Linked DNA regions of Homo sapiens: region 2 is linked to region 1. The links come from fine-mapping of genetic effects on gene expression. A gene starts in region 1. The other region holds a variant in brackets. All regions are shown on one strand. Distances are between the middles of the regions.

What was found.
Region 2: its variant is fine-mapped to the expression of GRID1 in testis (GTEx, PIP above 0.99).

Annotation. Positions count from the first base shown.
Region 1 is chr10:86,363,690-86,369,184 of GRCh38, forward strand. It overlaps GRID1 (glutamate ionotropic receptor delta type subunit 1), which reads right to left and starts at 3,106. Exons shown (of 16, transcript NM_017551.3): 1 at 2,625-3,106; 2 at 252-407. The coding sequence starts at 2,703. RefSeq lists an enhancer at 1-214 and silencers at 2,415-2,564, 2,595-2,794, 3,025-3,074, 3,095-3,484, 3,595-3,804.
Region 2 is chr10:85,728,501-85,733,500 of GRCh38, forward strand. GRID1 (glutamate ionotropic receptor delta type subunit 1) reads right to left here. Exons shown (of 16, transcript NM_017551.3): 9 at 1,013-1,114. Among named protein-coding and RNA genes, the nearest start is that of GRID1-AS2, 87 kb to the left of the region's middle. The variant A/G (reference allele first, on the strand shown) is at 2,593.

The DNA.
Region 1 (5,495 bases):
GCGCCACGCAACCCGCAAGAACACCAGCTCCCCGCGCTCGCAGGCTCTCCGTGCCGGCCCGCAGCGCAGAGCAGTCCCGGCGCCGCTGCCTAGGTGGGCCGGGGAAGGCGCGCCACCGCGCATGGCACCGCGGCTGCCGAGGAACAGAGGGTGCCCTGCGCAGCCCAGCTCGTCCCAACCCCTCCGGTGCCCACTGCTGCGACGCCTCGCAGGCCGTGTCCCAGTGGGCCCTGGGCACAGCGGTCACTCACCTTCCTGCACAGCCTGGAATGGGTTGTTGGCCTCGATGACCTTGATGGAGTAGGTGATCTTCTCGCTCTGCAGGATGTCATCGTTGAGGCTCAGGTCGGATACCGCCAACTGGAACACCCTGTCGTCCTTGGCCGCGTTCTCCTCGAAGATGGCACCTGGAGGAGAGAAGGGATCAAGACCGGACCTGGACAAGAACCCTCTCCCCGCTTCCCTTGGCCCGAGGGTCAAGGCACTCGCAGACCGATGATTGCCGGGTGGTGGGAAGTCTGAACTGGGATTTCAGCTTGGCGGGGTAGATTAAGGCTCTCCGATCTCCACCTGCACAGGAATATGTTCCCCTCCCCCCACCAGCCCTCAGCGCACACGTGCACACAGTTGACATGAGTTACACATGCACATCCCACAGGCTGCCACCAGGTCACACACGTGTCTCACAACCAAGGCACCACATGTCCTAGCCATGCTCCACACAAGGGACTAAGCCAAGCTGGGGTGGCCCCAGGCAGCGCCCAAATGCCTTGACATGGTTCCATAAATCCCATCCCAGGAGCCAGGAAGTTCCCCGGGAGGGTGGTGTCCCCCACCCAAATCCCAGGACAGAATGATGGGTCCTTCTCCATGCACGTCCCCTGCTGAGTGGAGCTGAGCGAAGCAGGTCTACAGTTGGCTTTCCTGCGCAGAGGGGTCTTCCTTAGGCAGGGGCTTCGGATGGCCTGCAGCTTGGATGACTGTGACGCTGCCCGGCCTGGCGCCCTGAGCTCAGCCTCCTACTCTCCATCCTTCCCCACTCCCATTTCCTGTACGTCTGTCGAGGGGAGTGGGGGAAGGGGACTTGTGTCCTAGGCGCCTCCACGTTCAGATCTAGCGGAGCTGGGGGTCCCAGAAGGAGCTGCTCTTGAAGGGCTTTCTAGAACCGCGGACAGCTCCTCCAGGGCGCCCTCCGGCTGGCGCTTTGTGCGCCTAGCACAGCTTCCACGGACCCTGCGCTTCCAGCCGAGATCAGTGCGACCAGCCCGAGCCTAGTCCTGCAACCTGGACAGCTCTGGAGTCAGCCACCCACATCCCGCCTCACCAAGCCTCGAGGGTCCCTGAGGTCCCGGAGCTAGGCCCAGTGATCCCTCGAGCTGGGGGCTGGGTAGGAGGAGGGAGGCCCGGATTCCTCACTACACCCGGAGCCGGCGCCGCAATGCTGACCGCGAGACCCGCACCCCTCCAGGGCGGGAAGCAGGTTTGGTCACGGGCCCCTGAGGAGGAATCGTAGCTCTCCGAGCCCAGGCCTAGTCCTCACCACCCCACTCCACCACCCACCCTCCCGCCTTGTCCCGTCCTCCTCGCCTTCAACACCTCCCAACCCCCAGTTTCCCTGTGCTCGCTGGTCTTTCCCAACTTCCGGAAAGACGACTGCGGAGGGACTCCCCCAAAGCGACCGCTGTCAGCCCCCCAACTCGGCCCAACTTCCCGAGATTCCTCCCGTGTTGCTCCCAACTCCCACCCACTCCCCCTCGGCGCGCCCACTCCCCCTCGGCGCGCCCCCTCCTCCTCTGCGCTTTCATCTTCTCTCCCGGTTCTCTCTCTCTATCCATCTCTTCCCGCTCAGCATCCCCCTACCCCCCGCTGCCCACGCTTCTTCCCTCGGCTCCCACCACCCAGACCGTCTGGGCCCCCAAGACTTGGACCACGCAAAACTCTAGGACTGTCCAGGATGGGGATGCAGTCGCCACAACCAGATACACACGCACTCACACATACACCAAGGGCTACACAGACACACACCGGAGAAGCAGGCAGACACTGTGTCCACTCTAACAGGCTGACAGACAGTCGTGCACGCACCAACACACGCTCAGATGGCCCCACACACCCCAACACCCTCTCACAGTAACACCGACACCGTGCCAGGCGCACACAGCGACACACGCTGACAACACGCACCCACACACATTCACACACGGTTCCGGTCCGGCCTCTTTGATCTTGCCCTGCCAACTTGGCGAGCCCCCCGCTGTACCTCCCCCTGCCCCCCGCTGCTCTGAGCTGCGCAGAAGGGCCCTCCCGACCCGCCGACGGCCCCGCTAAGGGCGCGGGTCTCGACGCGCGTCCATCCCGGTGTTCCCCGAAGCGTCGGCCCTAAGTGTCGGTAGAGGCCGCGGGGCCCCGCGCGGAGATCGGAGCCCCGGGGAGCGGCAAGCAGCCAGCGGGAGCGCGGCGCGGCCGGTGCACAGCTCCTCCGCCGGGCGGCGCGGCGCGGCCCTTCGGGGGAGCACCGCCCGCCGAGCCCCTCGGCCCAGGGAAACGCCAAGTTTGGACGCCGCGCACCCCCTGCCCCGTTGGGGCCCCCGCCCAGCCTCGGCCCGGCCTCCAGCCGCGCTTACCGATGTGGATGATGGAGTCGGCCCGCACCGACACGCACTGGCATATCCAGGGGAGAAGCCACAGCGTCAGCGCTTCCATGTCCCCCGGGCGCGCGGCTCATCCACCCGGGCCCGGGGCGAGGCCGAGGGCAGCGCGAAGCGGGGAGGCGCTGGTCCCGGTGCAGTCCCGGGCCGCTCCCCGGGAGAGCCGAGCCCGCCCGTGCGTCTTCCCCCGCGCGCCCGCCCCTGCGCCCTGCGCCCGCCCCAGCCCAGCCCAGCCCAGCCCAGCGCGGTCGGGCTCCCGCTCCGGCTCCGGTGGCGGCTGCGGCGGTGCTGGCAGCTTGAGCCCAGGCCGGCGCGGCGGGGGCGGCCCGCGGCTGTGGCAGCGGCGCTTCCCGCGGCTAGAGCGGCTTCGGGGGAGGCTGAGGCGGTGGCGGCGGCGGCCGGGCCGGCGTGGCGGCTCTGGGCTGGCTGTGTGTCTGAGCCCCGGCGAGGAGCGAACTGCGGAGGACGCCCCCTCCCCTCCCCCTCCCCCTCAGCTCCGCTCCCCCTCCCCTCCCTGCCCGCCTCCCTCCCCTCCGCCCGCCTCTCTACCACGTGACTGCGGAGCCTCAGCCTCGCCGCGCGGCTCTCGCCCGCTCGCGGCTCGGAGGGGGCGCCGGGTGCTCCACGCTCCCGGCTCGGGGGACGCTCGGAGACCGGCACAGCGGCGGGGACCGGCCTGGGCTGCGGCGCGCCGAGCTCTGACGGTTCGGGCCTCCTTCTCCGGTTCGCCAGGGGCGGGAGAATGGAGGAGGGCCGGCCGCTAACTGCCCTCGAGGGGCTCCCGAAGCGCCCTGGCGACCTCAGCAGCCGCGCGTCTCGGGTCATGTCCCCGGCCGAAACAGACCGTTCCTCGTGGAGTGGGACCTGGGGAGCAAGAAGAGAGACCGGGGCGGGGCGCCGGGCCAGGCCCCAGGACAGCTGGGGAGCCAGAGGGGGCCGGCCGCCGCAAGCATCTCAGAGTAGAGCCCGGGCCGTGGGCTCGAACCCTGGCTGGCCGCGCGGACCTCGGCGGGCGCCCATCCCCCGCTCCATGGGCAGCGCGCTCAGCCGGGAGTCGGGCAAGAGGCTCGGACTCTGAAGCCCAATTCATGGCCGGAAACCAGCGCAGCCGTGACCGCGGCGCCTGGACGTGAGGAGCCTTCCAAGCGGCCGGCGGGCTCAGACTCCGACCCTGCACGGAGCTTTCATGTGCGAGCCCGGGCGAAGAGCCCGCTCCTCGCGGCCACAGCGGAACAGGGCTCCCTCCGCCTCCGGTGCCTGCCTCGGGCCGGCCACCACCAAAGAGAGCGTTAAGCTGTTGTGGGCTCGTGCCTGAAAGGGACTGGGCTCCATGTGGCACCCCCAAGATTTCGAGGAGACAGCTGAGCTTCCTGGGGTCTGGGACCTGGCAGAGCCTCGTTCAAAAGCTGCTCCTCCAGCAAGCCTGGGAACGTCCCCGGGCCCTGTTGTCCGCGGAGGGGCCCCAGGACTCCCGCCACGCACCAGGGGGAGAGGCTCCCACCACAGCCCTTGCCCAGAGCTCCCAGCGCAGTGGGCGAGGCAGACACCCAACCAAGTCATCTTTTAAATGTTGGGGGGGGCTATGAATGAGCTGTGTATGCTCAGATGCCTGGGCTCTGAACCAGCCTGGGAAGAAGAGCAGGGATGACTTCCTGGAGGAGATGACAGTTGTAAAGACTGAGTGGAGGTTCCCAAGGGAGAAAATAAGGCTTCCAGGCATTGAATAGTGGTGAGCCAAGGCAAAAAGAAAGAAGTGTGTGTCTGTATGTCTGTCTGTCTCTCATGTGGCCAGAGCCAAAGAGTAAGCATTGGTAGATTTCACTTTGGAAAGAAAGATTGGAGAGGATGGGCTGTGCAGAGGGGGCCAGTGGAGGCCCATAGCACTGTGAGGGAACCCTGGGTGGGCCAGCTCAGCTGGGCAGGGACAGCCTGTTGGAGCGGAGAAGCTGGATTGCAGAAGTATCAAGGAATCCCATGAGCCAGCAAGGTGACTTCTAGGTTAAGGAGGCCAGGGGGCAAGAAGAGAGGAGTGGTCATATGTCATACTTGCCCATGGGAGTGGCTGAATGTGGTCCTACACACACACACACACACACACACACACACACACACACTTCTTCCAAAAACCTGTCTTAGGGTCCTTGAGTAGTGAAACCTGACCCACCCCGCATCTCAAAACCCTCTACACCTCTAATTCTTATTCCTGCAAAATTCTACCATTCACTGGCTGAAATGCTGTAGGGAGAAGAGAAATAAATGATGAGTTTTATTATACATCAGTTTGGTTCCTACGGGGACTGTCTCCACCTTGAAAGGATGGTGGGTGTGGTCTTGACCTGAAGTCCCTGTGGGTCAGGGACTCTCCCCGGGCCTCCTGTTGTTGGGGGTTCTCCAGTGTGTTAGTACAGTGGGCATGTGATATACCCAGTTAGAAGTTTTTCTTTGATGTATGTTTTGCTAGGTGTAGGTAGCATGATTTCAGTGGGATAAGTATTAAGACCTCCTTCCAAGTATTAAGAAGACAACCCACCAACACATAGTTGTGGAATGATTTCCATCAAGTTCCAGTTTGGATGATGAGGTGGGTGATGAGGTTCCTGTGGCTTGGCATCTGAGGATCATGACTCAAGGTGGATCTCATCTGGAAGTTGTTGACCTGGGGCAACCTCACCTTCTGTCCTGGGTGCCTCCTTCCTCTCCAGCTTCCAGGGCGTGTGGTAGTCTGCCATCCCCATATGCTCATTCCCAGATCCTCACCCTGGGACAGTCCACTCAGCCAAGCCAGTTTTCCTATCCAGGCTAGAATCCCCTGGACACTGTAGGCAGCGTGGTGACTGTAGGCACTTG
Region 2 (5,000 bases), 640 kb before region 1:
TATCTACAGGCTATACTAGAAAGTGGATATGGATATGGATTAACTGACCAAGGCCAGACCAGAAGCCAAAGGGTAGGACAGAATTCAAACCCAGAGTTCCTAGTTCAAAGCCATGCCATGCTCACACCTGCACATGTTGTGCTATGCCACATGTGAGCGAGGTGGTCATCTGAAAAATGTCTTGGCACTCCCTACCATTCCCCTTCCTTCTTGTGTGAAACTGAACAAGGGGCCTTTGGCAAACAGCTCCAGGGAGTATAGCTCATTAATTTAGTTGTGTTGGGAAATAGGGTGTAAAGCTTATCTGTGGTGTGCAAACAGAGAATGCAGAAATACTGTTGCCAAAGGTTTCTAAGCCAAGGGAATGCTAGTGTCTGCTGGGAGAGAGGGGACGTTTGGGCACGTGTGACTCAGCCAATAAGAGGCAAGTCTATAATGTCTCCTGCAGTTTTTATAAAAATGTGAAAAAAGCAATTGAAAGGAAGATGCTTTTAAAGTCTCTTACAAATGCAAAAGTCTATGATTCCAGGACATCCATGCAGAAAAGTTGCAACTACCGAATGGTCTTCATTCTGAACTTGTGTCACTGTCACATGAGCCCATCACTGGTGTTGGGTGCTAAGAGAATGTCCTCCTCCAGCATCTATCTTGGGGTTCTGGCTACCAGAACAACTCTCCTAAGGACCAGTAGTGGGTCAAGATCCATTTTACATCCAAGAACAAATGGAGCAGCTTGGCCCCCTCTGGTCCTCAGAGGAAGCTGTGAATGAGAAGTCCTTTTCTAGAGCAGCTCAGGGACTTCCTTTGGAAGGCACAGAGGTCCTGGGGCAGAAACTTCAATCTCACTCTTCCTTTCATTATTCATACAATTATTTGAATGAAAGGCCTTATGAAAGCTCACAATACTCCTCAAGATTCTCTTCTCCCCAAACCCAGCATTAAACAGAAAGCAGCCTCTGATTCAACAGCCTGGATGGTGTAGCTCGCTCCCAGAATGTCCCCATGATCCTACCAAGACAGTCACCACTTTAAGAGTCAATCCTTGGAGGCGGCTGCCCATGGGCCTCTCTTGCAAGCTGCCATTCAAGCCCTTCTCTGAGTCCCATGTCGCCAACTGTGAAGGAAAAATAAAGATTGTGAGGGATGGAACTGGCACCCGTGCACACCATAGGACCTCGGCTCCTACACTGGGATCCTGAATTAGGCAGGTAGGTGAACAGTAGTCCCCTGGAGTTCCCAGAGACCCAGAGCCATTTTAAAACCCTAAAGAGAATAGATATATGGTAGACAGAGTTACATGTCCTCCTTCAGCTCGCCTGGATCTCTATAGAGCTCAGCACAGCCCTAAAATGAAACCAACTGGTGAGAACTTGTCTCTAGAACAAATGTTTATGTCCAGTTTTATTCTGTTCACCCACAGAGGCCATGTCACTGTGATGCCTGCAAAATACCCTCTTTCTTTAATTACTCCTTTGACTTGCCCAGGCCACAAGGCCCTTGAGTTCAGCCATTGCTCCCTCCATGGGTAGGATGAAGCTCAGCAGTAAAGCAAGTAGCAAACACTCAAGTGTACAGCTTGTCTTGCACCCCGGTGCCTATGGCAAGCAGGGTCAAGAGCTTCCTGCCTGTTTTCACTGTGGTGCCAGCTCCCTCATTTTCCTTGACAGGCAGGTAGAGGCTAATGGCAGAGTAAATGTGCTCTGAATCTGCTACATTCTCTTAAGCCTGCAGAGTATATCCAATAGCCAGAGGCATCTCTGATAGTCACCCTAAGGTGGTCAAGGAGAACCTACCTTGGCTCAGAAACAATGAGGAGACACAGTTGTTCATGAGACTGCTTCCCCTCCCTGCATCCTTGCAGGGTCTATACAACGACAAAACTTTTGTCTGGGAAACGATTCTCGACTATTAATGGGGAAGACATAACAAAATGCAGATACCCAGCCCCATCTCAAGTCAACTAAATCAGGATCTCAGGGCCTGAGCATAGGAAGTGTTAATGCCTCCTGAGTGCTCCTGATACTGCAGCCAATGTCGAGAACCCCTGCTCTTCTAGGTCACTGGGCCTCCAACTTGGCTGCATATTAGTATCTTTTAAGGGGGCTTTATAATGAAGTGTACTGAAAGTTGGGCCTTACCCCCAGAGCCTCTTATTTAATTGGTCTGTAGTGGACTAGAGATGGATATTTTAGCTCCCCAGGTGATTCTAATGCACAGCCAGAATTGTGAACCACTGCTGTAGATTAAAGCCATGATGCTCAAACTATGATATCCACACAAATCACCCAGGGATTTTGTATGCACTTTCTGATTCTGGGGCCTGAGATTATTCATGTCTAACAAGCTCCCAGGTGATGCTGCTGCTGCTGCTGCTAATCCATGGACCACAATTTAAATAGCAGGGGGCTAAAGGGTCAAACTGCCACAGGCAGTATATACTGTTGTCAGGGAAAATCCATAAGACCCCCTAGTTAACCTGAAGAGAAGAAGAACTCCAGTGGAAAAGTGCTACTGGGGGCCCTAAAGTAAAGAATGCTTCTACTCTGTCAGCATTTCCCATGGTCCTGACATCTGCAGCAGGGTCTGCACACT[A/G]AGCCCTGACTATAAGGCCATAGAACCTGAGGAGTCATTCCTCCTGGAAGAGACAACAACTCTGAGATGTAAAACCATCAGAATAAGAGATGGAGTTCTAGAGTCAGTTTTAAAGAAACCTGGAATTTCCTGTTGTCACCTTGGACATGATACCCACCAAGACCCACTCCATCCTGAATAATAGGGTGCCTTGGTGTGATGAATAAATAAATTAGTAAAAAACATGGCCATGTACCCCAAAGAACCACCCACCGCCACCACCACTAATTAATTTGGGGGCATTGAGATAAAGAACAAGTGAAGATCTACCCAAAATTCTGCTTAAAGACCTCGAAGATACCAAAATACCACACTTTGGGTAATGATACAGTTAAAAAAAAAAAAAGCAAAAATCATGGCTATTTCTCCATTGGACCTTAAAAAATAGGCTGAGAGCTGTGGCTTATGCCTGCAATCCCAGCATTTCGGGAGGCCAAGGTGGGTGGATCGCTTGAGTCCAGGAGTTCAAAACCAGCCTGGGCAATGTGGTGAAATACTGCCTCTATAAAAAATAAAAATAAATTAGCCAGTGTGGTGGCATACTCCTGTAGTCCCAGCTATTTGGGAGGCTGAGGTAGGAGGATCAATTGAGACCAGGAGGTCAAGACTGCAGGGAGCCACAATTGTGCCACTGCACTCCAGCCTGGGCAACAGAGTGAGACCCTGACAAAAAAAAAAAAAAGAAGAAGAAGGAAGGAAGGAAGGGAGGGAGGGAGGGAGGAAGAAAGGGAGGGAGGAAGGGATAAAGAAAGGGAGGTAGGGAGGGAGGGAGAAAGAAAGAGAAAGAAAGAAAGAGAGAGAGAGAAGGGAAGGGAAGGGAAAGGAAAAAGGAAAAAGGAAAGGAAAGGAAGAAATTGCATTAAGATACAGAATTGGTTCCTACAGCTGGATTAAAATGCTTGTCAGAGGGAAGAGGACAAATTCAGACAAATGGGGTCAAGGGGTTGATTGCCTCTATTCTTTGGATGTTCTACTATGGACTCACTGGGGCAGGAGTGGATATTTATTTGGGGTGCCTGCATCTGCACTCCCATAACTGCTTAGCCCAGGTGCTGGAGCTGCTTAGCCCTGATGTGTGTCCTGCTACTTCTCCTGGGTGTAGGTGGAGTTATAGAGGTCTTCTTGACCATCCCAATGGCTCACAGAGTCATAACAGAAGACATCTTGTCCTAATGATGATGTGACCATTCCAGGCACTCAATACTCTTATCCTGCACCAGGACCCAGATTCGTAACATCTGCTGCCAAACCTTCCTGGTACGGTGAAGGGGCATCTTAATTCTCTACTGTCTTGGCTTGGATGAGTGTTTGGAATGGAGCTCTGTGCATCTTGATCAACAAGGCTTTACCTGTCTTTCTACTGGGATTATAATCAGAAATTAGAATGGAGGATGGAGGCAGGAAGAAACAGTTGGGATGAAGCCCTGAACATCATTCTCTGCTTCTGGCTCACTGCTTGGCTCCAGGATGCACCACCTCAGTCCCCCTAGACCTTTGCAACAGCTTTCTCATTGGTTTCGCTGCTCTCAGCCTCTCTTATAGCACATCCTTCAACAGGCAAGTGGGTACCCTTACAACAAATAAACTCAAATATGAACTATATTAATTAAAATATTCTAATGAATTCCTTTTTCTTACAGAATAAATCCTAAGACTTTTCAGCTTGGCCTAAAAGAAAAGCCTTCCTCATCCAGAGCCAATCCTGACTCTCAACCTCACTTTAGTTTATGTAGTTACAGTACACTAAAATCCCCAAAATCCCTCCTTCTTTCTCAGGCACACCACATTCCCTCCTGATATTTGTATCTAGTTTTTCTCTGCCTGGAATGCCCTTTCTCCTCTTCTGGGTCTGGTAAACTCTTACTTGTTTGTTGAAATAAGATTTCACTTTAGAATAGTTTTAGATTTACAGAAAAGTTGTAGATATTGTACACAGAATGTCAATAGATCCATAAGCCAGTTTTTCCCATTAAGACATAACATTAGAATGACACATTTATCACAACTAATGAATGTTCAGCCCAATATCCATGATTTATGCAAATCTGCAATAGAAATGAAATAGAAGGACCTCCAGTTCCTTCTACTCTTGGCATAAGTCAGTGAGTCAGCTGTGGCATTGGGGTTTCTTGCCATGTTCTCTGGGGTCAAAACTCTGTCTTCATAAGCTGTCTAGAGCCTCAGGCTCTTGGGCTAGACCTGGCCTTGCTCATTCCCATCTCAGGATCTCCAACCTTGCCTCGAATTCCAGGCTCTCCTCTCCAACATTAACTTCTGTAACTGGAGAAGAAGATGGGAACTTGGAGGTGTGAACTTAGCAGATGTTCATGAGTCAGTAGACCTATGTTCTAATTGTTGTCACCACTTAC